2 separate regions of the Homo sapiens genome follow, and region 2 is linked to region 1. The links come from fine-mapping of genetic effects on gene expression. A gene starts in region 1. The other region holds a variant in brackets. All regions are shown on one strand. Distances are between the middles of the regions.

Evidence for each region. PIP is the estimated chance that this variant, and not a neighbour inherited with it, causes the effect. A credible set is the group of variants that fine-mapping cannot tell apart.
Region 2: its variant is the best candidate, but not a certain one, in a credible set for the expression of FLACC1 in testis (GTEx, PIP 0.57).

What each region holds. Positions count from the first base shown.
Region 1 is chr2:201,355,087-201,360,467 of GRCh38, reverse strand. It overlaps FLACC1 (flagellum associated containing coiled-coil domains 1), which reads left to right and starts at 3,123. Exons shown (of 15, transcript NM_001127391.3): 1 at 3,123-3,486.
Region 2 is chr2:201,283,958-201,289,338 of GRCh38, reverse strand. CASP8 (caspase 8) reads right to left here. Exons shown (of 9, transcript NM_001372051.1): 8 at 4,022-4,523; 9 at 1,630-2,880. The coding sequence ends at 2,745. It overlaps FLACC1 (flagellum associated containing coiled-coil domains 1), which reads left to right. Exons shown (of 15, transcript NM_001127391.3): 15 at 558-1,068. The coding sequence ends at 684. Among named protein-coding and RNA genes, the nearest start is that of CASP8, 26 kb to the right of the region's middle. RefSeq lists a cis regulatory region at 837 and an enhancer at 765-909. The variant C/G (reference allele first, on the strand shown) is at 2,623.

The sequences.
Region 1 (5,381 bases):
TCCACAGATGGAAAGCCTCCGAATGCTCCCAGCTGACCATGTTTGCCACTTCGTGAATGCTGCAGCATCACACAAGAGGATATCTATTTCCCCAAGCCCTGTGCAGACCAATTTTGATAATATTGCTGTCAGAATTAAGTTGCAGTTTCTCTCATTCATTTTTCAACTTATACTTTGTTTTACTATTGGTGGCCTCCTCCACCTCTGTTCCAAATAGTAAGACACTTTGCTTTAGGCGAAGTTACTGAGAATGCCAGCACTTCCCCAATTTCATCCAAGAGAAGAGCACTTAACACTTAGCCCCTAAACACCTTCATTTCCTTCTCCTCAGCTGTTTTGGAACTGGCGAAGCTTTACTCATGTCCAAAAAGATGAAAGGAGAATGGGGATACCCAAGTAGTAGTAATTAGTGCTGAGCCTTTGCCAAGTCGAGTGGCTGGGGTATTCCTTCAGCACTTACTTCCTCTGTATCTCTGTTTTTAGCCATGCTTCACTCAAGACCCAAATCCTGCTGCTTTTTTTTTTTAATCATAAGAAAGGATTTAAATATAAAATTTTACACATTAAACACACTCAAAGTAAATATTCAATCTCTGGATGGAGACAGATTGTCTAGATGACTAATAGAGTCTATCAATTCTTCTCTAAGTTATTTCCCTCCTTTTAATCTTTGAAAGTCTCTCTTCATCTAGCCTGTTCATGGTGCTCAGAGTTGAAGCAGCCATAGTGCAACCAAGACGCTTCCCTCCATCAACACACCGAGGCTGGCATAACAGAGAGATGGAAAGAGCCCAGTTCTCCAAGGACATTGCTGAATCTTTGCACCAACTCTGATAGCACTGCCTCCAGACTCTATTTCATGAGGTTAATAAACCTCTTTGATGTAAGCCACTTGCAATCAAGCAACAGGTCTATGCATTTTAACTACACATGGCCCACACTGAGAAATCTTGTCGTAAATACTGGTGTCCTCAGAGCTCTGTTCTAGACCCTCTTCTCTCCTTACACAATACTCTCTCTATATGTGATCTCACTCGCTCCCTTGGCTTGGAATAGTATCCACTCTGAAGACTCCTAAATCTGCTTCTAGGCCAGAATCTTCCTCTGAACTTCTAAAATATGTAAGAAACTCTAACAGACGTCACCACTTGTCTATTAGTCTCCCTGCACCTCAACATATCCAAAACTGAACTAATAATCTGCTCCCTAGAACCTGTTTATCCCTCCACACTTTCCTATCTCAATAAATGGCACCACGGTCAACTCAATTGCTCGAGCTGGAAAGCCAGGAATCATCACCTTCTCCTTTTCGCTCATCCCAGCATCCAGTCAATCACCAAGTTCTATCATGTCTTCTCTCCATCCCCACTGCTGCTCCTCAGTCAGGGCCATCGTCAGGTCCCATGACGACCACTGCCACAGACTTTTACCTGGTTTTCCTGGCCCTTCCAATTGCTTCCCTATATTGCAGTCAGAATGATCTTTCTGATATGTAGATCTAGTCAGATCTCTTCTCTGTTTAACACTGCTGCCTGACTCACTGGACTAGAAGAGTAACTCCTGCTATGAACTCCCACTGCTTCTGGCAAGTCTCAATATGAGTCATTGTGGCTGCATGGTGACTTACACCTGTAATCCCAGCACTTTGGGAGGCCGAAGCAGGAGGATCACTTGAATTCAGGAGTACAAGACCAGCCTGGACAACATAGCAAGGCCTCATGTATACTAAAAGTCAAAAAAATTAGCTGGGCGGCCGGGCGCAGTGGCTCACGCCTGTAATCCCAGCACTTTGGGAGGCCGAGGCGGGCGGATCACGAGGTCAGGAGATCGAGACCATCCCGGCTAAAACGGTGAAACCCCGTCTCTACTAAAAATACAAAAAAATTAGCCGGGCGTAGTGGCGGGCGCCTGTAGTCCCAGCTACTTGGGAGGCTGAGGCAGGAGAATGGCGTGAACCCGGGAGGCGGAGCTTGCAGTGAGCCGAGATCCCGCCACTGCACTCCAGCCTGGGTGACAGAGCGAGACTCCGTCTCAAAAAAAAAAAAAAAAAAAAAAATTAGCTGGGCATGGTGCTGTGCACCTGTGTAGTCCCATCTACTTGGGAGTCTGAGGCAGAAGGATCGCTTGAGTCCAGGAGGTCAAGGCTGCAGTGAGCTATGCATGCAGCCTGCACTGCCACTGCCACTGCACCGCAGCCTGGGTAACAGAGTGAGCTACTGTCTCAAAGGAAAAAAAAATTAATTATGCTTTTATTGAGCTTTTTTATTGTCTGTTTTCTCATTGGTCTCTAAGTTGTATTGAGTATAAGAACTGAGGTATATCCCCACACCTAGCAATAGTGCCTGGCACACAGTAGACAACAAATGTGAAGTTGAGTGAATAGATGAATTTATAACAATATTTTGTAAGCTAGGGGTTGTGACCCACCAGGATCATGAAATCAATCTAGTGGATTATAATCAGCTTTAATTTAAAGAAGAAAAAGAAATAGAAGAGAATAGCAAATAATAAGAGTATTATTTCATGAAATTTTTTTATTACAAAATTTGTAAAATGTATTTCTTATAATGAGTGGCAGTAAAACTAAAATGAAAGCCACTGGGTTGTAATAAGCAAGTACTTTTTTCTATAGTAAGAAAAAGCAGCTTTATTTAAAAAAAAAAATCGGAAAACCTTGTGACTGCAAAAGATTCCTGCCTTGGGGGATTTTTACTTTCACAGATTTCAAAGCCTTAAACTCGAGGGAAAAAAGTGTCTAGAGTTTTAGGTTTCTGTGAGTAGATCACAGAGGAATTAAAAATCCATCACAGATCCTGCCTGGTAACTATTGCCATAGACCAATGAAGCCTAAAAGTGCTGTTGAATTCTATTTCCTCTGAAGATATATCTTAAACTTTTTTGTCCCATGACTGATGACGAAAGTGGAAATCCAGTGTTAAAAGTATGAATTCTTTGCTGTTGAGGGTGGTCACTGATTTGTGTCTTGGAGAATTTAATTGGCTGTTTCTCCCAACCTTCTCTCTTGAAGAAAAGAGCCCTGAGCCAATGAGGAGCTACTGTTCTGTGTCCATAGCAACAAAATAAACAAACTTTGGCCTGCCATCTCCCAAGGGCAAACCTCACAACTCAGGCCCAAGTCACAGGAATCTGAATGGTGGGGTGACCTTCTCCTCTAGTTTAATTTCATTGCAATACTGAGAAACTTCAACTGTTTTGTCTTTAGAAGGGAAATTCATGTTTGTGCCAGGCCAGCCTTTGTAAAAGCCTTTGATTGGATTCACTAGAAGTCTGTCTTCCCGCAGTACATATACTGTGAATTTTCTCCTTCGGCATTTCAACCACTTGGAATGGCCACTAAAGTGGCTTTTGATCTAAAGTAAACTCTGATTCTGTGTTGATGGGGAACCATTTCTCTCTAACATGGTGGTTTCTTTAAGATGTTTGACTTGGGCCACATGAGAATAACAGATCTTTGGGCAGTCCAAGGTAAGCTCTTTGGAAAAGATGTTTTATATTATTTTTTCTACTGATTATTAATACTAACCAGTAACTTCTCTGAAGCCTCTGCCGGCTCACTGGTGACTATTGTTAGGGCAAGCCTCAGGTAAAATCATCAGGTAGAAGTGCAGGAAAGGGAAAAAAGGGGGAGAAAAAATCCTTACACACACTCACACACCCCTCTATAATTAGAGCTATATGATGTCAAGCCACTGTAAATGCAGATCTATCTGTGATGACATGGAAATATCAACTAGATATCCTGTTACACAAAAAGAACAAGATGCAACATTGTGTGCAAAGTATGCTCTCACTTATGCAAATAATTTAAAAAATCTATTATGCTTCTCTACAGGTTAAGTTCTATATGCAAAACATTTAAGGTTATATGCACTCACAACATTTCTGGAAGGATGCCCCAAAAATCTGTTAGAAGTAGTTCCCACTTAAGAAGCTATGAGAAGTCAAGGGCTGATTTTAGCTACTGAAATATTAAAATACTGCCATATAGGCAGGGCACGGTAGCTCACACCTGTAATCCCAGCACTTTGGGAGGCTGAGATGGGTGGATCACCTGAAGTCAGGAGTTTGAGACCAGCCTGGCCAATATGGTGAAACCCCATCGTTATAAAAATACAAAAATTAGCCAGGCATGGTGGCGGGTGCCTGTAATTCCAGCTACTGGGGAAGCTGAGGCAGGAGAATCGCTTGAACCTCGGAGGTAGAGGTTGCAGTGAGCCAAGACCACACCATTGCACTCCAGCCTAGGCAACAAGAGCAAAACTCCGTCTCAAAACAATAATAATAATAAATAAAATACTGTCATATTGATTGGTAGATGACCATTGTCCAAGCCCCTTGCATGTCCTCCTTGCCACCTTGGTTGTCCCAACTCCTCCCCTGGCACCCCCAGACCACCTCATGATTCAGCAACTAAGGGGTTAATGCCTGGCATGGAGGTGGGAGTGAGATCTCCCAGGACCCTGTTCCAACCCTGGTTGATTATTCAATAGCCTTGTCTTACTGGTTGTTAAATATTTTGAGTATCACTCCCATGGGTGTTCAAAGAAAAAGGCCTTTATTTTTATTTTATTTATTTATTTATTTTTTAGAGACAGGGTCTTGTGCTGTCACCCAGGCTGAAATGCAGTGGTGTGGTCCTAGCTCACTGCAACTTCAAACTCCTGGCCTCAAGTGATCCTCCCGCACCACCTGCCAAGTGGCTGGGACTACAGGCACACTCCACCATACTAGGCTATTTTTAAAATTTTTTGTAGATACAGAGTCTCGATATGTTTCCCAGGCTGGTCTCAAACTCCTAGCCTCAAGCGACTCTCCCACCTCAGTCTCTCAAAGTGTTGGGATTACAGACATGTGCCACCACACCTGTGAGGCCTTCTTTTTTTTTTTTCTTAAGAGCAAAAGAATATATACCAAGACATTGTTTATCATGGGAAAGAGGAAAAGGAAACAACTACACATTCATCAAAGATCATTGAAAATCTATGTAAAACTCCACTGAGTGATTGTATCACCCATACAATTTACCTCTGCTTTCTGGCTTTTGAATGCAAATGTTTAATGTTATTTATAATATGGTAATGACGATTACAACATTTTGGCAGTTTCATCTGTGAATCTCTTTTCTCTTTGTTTTTGTTTTTTGTTTTATTCATTTATTTATTGAGACAGAGTCTTGTTCTGTCATCCAGGCTGGAGTGCAGTGGTGAGATCTCGGCTCACTGCAACCTCCACCTCCCAGGTTCAAGTGATTCTCCTGCCTTAGCCTCCCGAGTAGCTGGGATTACAGGCATGTGCCACCATGCCTGGCTAATTTTTGTGTTTTTAGTAGAGACGGGGTTTCGCCCTGTTGGCTAGGCTGG
Region 2 (5,381 bases), 71 kb after region 1:
GTTTTCGGGAGGGAGGTATGTCACTCTAGGCCAGTGACACAAAGCCAGATAGTTCACTTGAGGTGGAGTGGAGATGTGTCTATACTTCTCCCATTCACCTGTGTCCTTGTTTCTATGCAAAACAACACAGGACATTTGTCTTCCAGTTTCTGAGTTTGCTCAGTTCTATGACTGAGGGTGGTTTTTAAATCCATCTCCCCTGGGAGTCTGATGGTCTTGCCATTACATGCAGCTGCTTCTGGTTCCTATGGAAATCACCTTTGGATCAGAAGGTGTACTGTTACCTGAAGCTGCATCTTAAATCATTAAAATAAATTTTGGTCAATACTTTAATAGAAGAAAGTTATTTATTGCATTGATTTAGTAGAAAATTCCTCGTATAGGACTTTAGTCACCTGAACACCATACCTCACTAAATTCAAAACCACTGCAAGTAATGAGTGAGAGACTGCTGTGGTGAAGGAACGAAGGCACATTTCTCTCCCTGCACTCCAAATATCCTATACCCTTTCTAGCTTTTGAGTTGACATTGATACATCTTTCCTTTCTTTTTACAGGCAAAAGATAATTTCTAAGAATGAAGAAATTTGTGAAGGATGTTCTGGGAGATTGGCCTCTATTACTGTTTCTAAGGATGATTCTGACACTGTGCAAGATGGTAGCAAGAAAGGACAAGAATCATAAACAAAAAGTTGCTCTGCATTGTTGAAGATGGTTGGCACACCATTTCTGTAGGCCCAGGAAACTCCTGGGAGGGTTTTCTTGAGAAAATGCATATAATGAGTTTAGTTCTTGGGTTGCTCTGACTCTCTGAATGTCTGAAAATGTTTGAATTCGCATCTGAATTTCACAGCTTATCACGGACTCTTCACTGAAAAATGATGCTCTCCATACTGGGAGCTGAGCTTTCTCTGAGTTTTGTACTATTTTTCTTCTACCTTGACGTATTTCGTTAGAAAGAAACTGATTTGAAGGCCTTCTTCATATTGAACTTTTACTATATTTGGGAGGTGTACCTTTGTCCCCTGGGGCATTTAGGTAGCAAAAAAAGATGATGTGTTGATTTTACTCTAAAATATTTTTCTCTCACACCCATGCCCCCTACTTCCCTACCTCTCAATCATGTTCCCTAACCTATGACTTAGGAAGGGTTTCTGATGATTCTTACCACCTCCTCTGGACCATCACCAGAATTCAGACACCCACAGTGCAGGCAACATAAATAAGTGAAGTGGGCTAGACATAAGGAAAACAATTGCCCAAGCACAGTGATAAGTGGCAACCAACAGCAGCCTCAGTAGAGGGGCTTGGGCAGGGCTGGGGCACAGCGGATGGGGAAGAGTGACCCACAGAGCACTGTCCCATCTGAAGAAGGTGCTTCTCAGACCTTTGCCATGCAAAAGCATGAGGTCAATATTGTCAGATAGTATGATTTTTTAAAAGAAGTTATTCTGGTTTTTATGTGATATCTCCTAATTTTTAAACATTGACAACAAATTTTAAAAATACAACTGTGTGTGCCGATCATGGGAGACTCAAGTAGAACATGTCTGTAGTCCAGATGTTTTCCACCTGTGAGATGTCATTGGCAGAAACCAAAACCAAACACAAAAAATCTCCAAGGAGCAATAAGATCAAATTATATTTTATTCTATTAAAAAATGTTTTTGAAAAAAGATACTTAAATTTTAAAGATAACTTAATTCCTAATGATTTAAAATAATCCAAGCAGAGATGAAAGAGCAAATGCAAATGCATAAAAAGACCCCAGAGCATTGTTAGCAAAAAGCAAATATAGTTAGCCAAGCATATATATATCATAAAAGCAATAAGAAGGCATAAAGCAAGTTTGGGGAGAGCTTATTTAAAACTTGTAAAAATCATTTGAATTTTTAAAAGATTTCAAACAAATTTTGTTTTATTAAAAAAAAAATTTTTTTTGAGACGGGGTCTTGTTCTGTCACCCAAGCTTGAGTGCAGCGGTGTGAACATGGCTCACTGCAGCCTTGACCTCTTGGGTTCAAGCAATCCTCCCACCTCAACCTCCCAAAGTGCTGGGATTATAGACATGAGCCACCATACGTGGCTACTTTCTAATTTTTTTAATGTGGTAGTGTGGAATTTAGCTTTGAAAGAGAATTAAAGTTAATAGAATATTAACAGTGGGCTTATAGTTGATAGATAACAATCTGAATCATAAGCCCTCTATATTCATAGCTGGATTTTGTACGTGTCTGGTATTTATTGCCACCAGCTAAAAACATTCCCAAAGCCTTAAGCATAAGAGAAAGGAGACAGTGTTATTGTTGTTAATATCCTATTTAACTTTAGCTCTTATAAAAAAGTGCAAAACAATTAATAAAGTAGAAAATCTAGAAAATTAGTAAATAAACATAGTGTTATATCTAAATAGTACCATCGGCCAGGCGCGGTGGCTCACGCCTGTAATCCCAGCACTTTGGGAGGCCGAGGTGGGTGGATCACGAGGTCAGGAGATCAAGACCACCCTGGCTAACACAGTGAAACCCTGTCTCTACTAAAAATATTTTTAAAAAATTAGCCAGGTGTGGTGGCGGGCCCCTGTAGTCCCAGCTACTCGGGAGGCTGAGGCAGGAGAATGGC[C/G]TGAACCCGGGAGGCGGAGCTTGCGGTGAGCCGAGATCACGCCACTGCACTCCAGCCTGGGCGACAGAGCGAGATTCTGTCTCAAAAAAACAAAACAAAACAAAACAAACAAAATAGCACCATCAATCAGAAGGGAAGACAAGTTTTTTTCTTAGTGTGAAAGTAGGCTGAGGCATCTGTTTCCCCATGTTTTTCTTGTCATCCTTGTTGCTTACTTCATAGTTCACTTCAGTCAGGATGGTGAGAATATCATCGCCTCTGAAATACATCACATAATATTGTGACTGTCTGTGGGGGAAAGCAACTGATGAACTGTCTCCTCTGCTGTGCTCAGAGATAGTTCTGTAGTTCTTTCTCTCAAAATATCAGTCATTTGAAACAATAAGGTGCGAAACCAAGACCTACCCCAGCTTTCCTGGTAAATGGGTTGTCTCAGAGCTTAATAACTTACTTTTGGTTTATTCAGGAACTCTTTTGACCATCAGAAACCTCGGTGTCAGTATTAGAGTTGGTTTCTTTCTCTCCTGACCTGTGTGTCTCTCACTCTTCTCCACGTTACTTGGCTCCCCATTGCTTCAATGCCCCCCAATACTCTCTGCCTCGAATTGACATCGCATCTGCGGATTCATCTTTGATGCAATTAAACTTAAGGCAAGTGAAAGTATAACGTCTCCTGCAGCTACTCCCACCTTCTTCTCACCAGGATCTCTTAGCATTTTTGTTAGGCAACCTCTTCTTCTACCTTGGTAGCTAGCCGCGGAAACCTTGCAGGATTCATGATCTAAGTTACGAAATCTAAGTTAGATTCATGATCTAAGTTACGGGAAATTCTCACTCTTCATATACTCAAAACATGAAATACAGGGCTAGAAGGAACCTGCTATTTATCTCCCATAATGCACCAAGAGGTTTTGAGGATGGTTTGCTATTATAGAACTTTTGACAGAGTTGGAGGATGTTTAAACATTGAATTGGGTTACTGCCTTCTTGGAAGATTTCCAAAACTAGTTGAATTGGCTCAGTCATGTTTTGGCCTAAAGACAGAGAGCTGGAGTATATGACTTTCCTATCCTTTCCTGCTCTGTGATACCCTGATTGTCCTTTGAGGTGCTGAATAAAGGAATAAAGCATCTCAGCTTTTCCATCTATAAACTAAGGATGTTAACACTTGCCACTCTCCCACTTTGTAACTGACCTGGGAAATGCAGCTATGTGATCTACAGCTAGACATTTAGAGTTGAACGGAAACCACTCCCCTTGGACAGTTCTCTGACCTGTTAATGTGATCTAAATCACATAGCACTTTCTAATAGGCTCTGAATATGAGTAGATAGTAGTGTGATGGAGTAGGGGGGGAAGGTAGTGTAACAGTGAGGAGGGCTGAGTAGGCAAAACTTACCGAGGACATCGCTCTCTCAGGCTCTGGCAAAGTGACTGGATGTACCAGGTTCCCTCTGCAGGGTTTCGGTAGGAAACACAGTTATTCACAGTGGCCATCCCCAGCAGAAAGTCAGCCTCATCCGGGATATATCTCGTTTGAGGTGATGATAAATCCATTTCTAAATAGGGTTGCTCCTCTGAATCAGTCTCAACAGGTATACCTTTCTGGTAGTTATCCCCCTGACAAGCCTGAATAAAAAACACTTTGGGTTTTCCAGCAAGGGAAGGGCACTTCAAACCAGTGAACTGAGATGTCAGCTCATAGATGGGGGCCTCCTGTCCATCAGTGCCATAGATGATGCCCTTGTCTCCATGGGAGAGGATACAGCAGATGAAGCAGTCCATGTTACTGTGGTCCATGAGTTGGTAGATTTTCAAAATCTCATAGATTTGCTCTACTGTGCAGTCATCGTGGGGCTTGATCTCAAAATGAAGCTCTTCAAAGGTCGTGGTCAAAGCCCCTGAAAAGTGAAATTTGAACAGTCACGTTATACCACAGTAATTCACAGACCACAGCTGGAGAGCACAGTGGGCATAACATTGATAGATAAGAATTTGACCCCTCTCCCTCTCCCTCTCCCCGTCTCCCTCTCCCTCTCCCTCTCCCCGTCTCCCTCTCCCTCTCATGCCGAGCCAAAGCTGGACGGTACTGCTGCCATCTCGGCTCACTGCAACCTCCCTGCCTGATTCTCCTGCCTCAGCCTGCCGAGTGCCTGCGATTGCAGGCGCGCGCCGCCACGCCTGACTGGTTTTCGTTTTTTTTTTGGTGGAGATGGGGTTTCGCTGTGTTGGCCGGGCTGGTCTCCAGCTCCTAACCGCGAGTGATCCGCCAGCCTCGGCCTCCCGAGGTGCCGGGATTGCAGATGGAGTCTCGTTCACTCAGTGCTCAATGGTGCCCAGGCTGGAGTGCAGTGGCGTGATCTCGGCTTGCTACAACCACCTCCCAGCCGCCTGCCTTGGCCTCCCAAAGAGCCGAGATTGCAGCCTCTGCCCGGCCGCCACGCCGTCTGGGAAGTGAGGAGCGTCTCTGCTTGGCCACCCATCGTCTGGGATATGAGGAGCCCCTCTGCCTGGCTGCCCAGTGTGGAAAGTGAGGAGCGTCTCTGCCCGGCCGCCATCCCATCTAGGAAGCGAGAAGCGCCTCTTCCCCGCCGCCATCCCATCTAGGAAGTGAGGAGCGTCTCTGCCCGGCCGCCCATCGTCTGAGATGTGGGGAGCACCTCTGCCCCACCGCCCTGTCTGGGATGTGAGGAGCGCCTCTGCTGGGCCGCAACCCTGTCTGGGAGGTGAGGAGTGTCTCTGCCCGGCCGCTCCGTCTG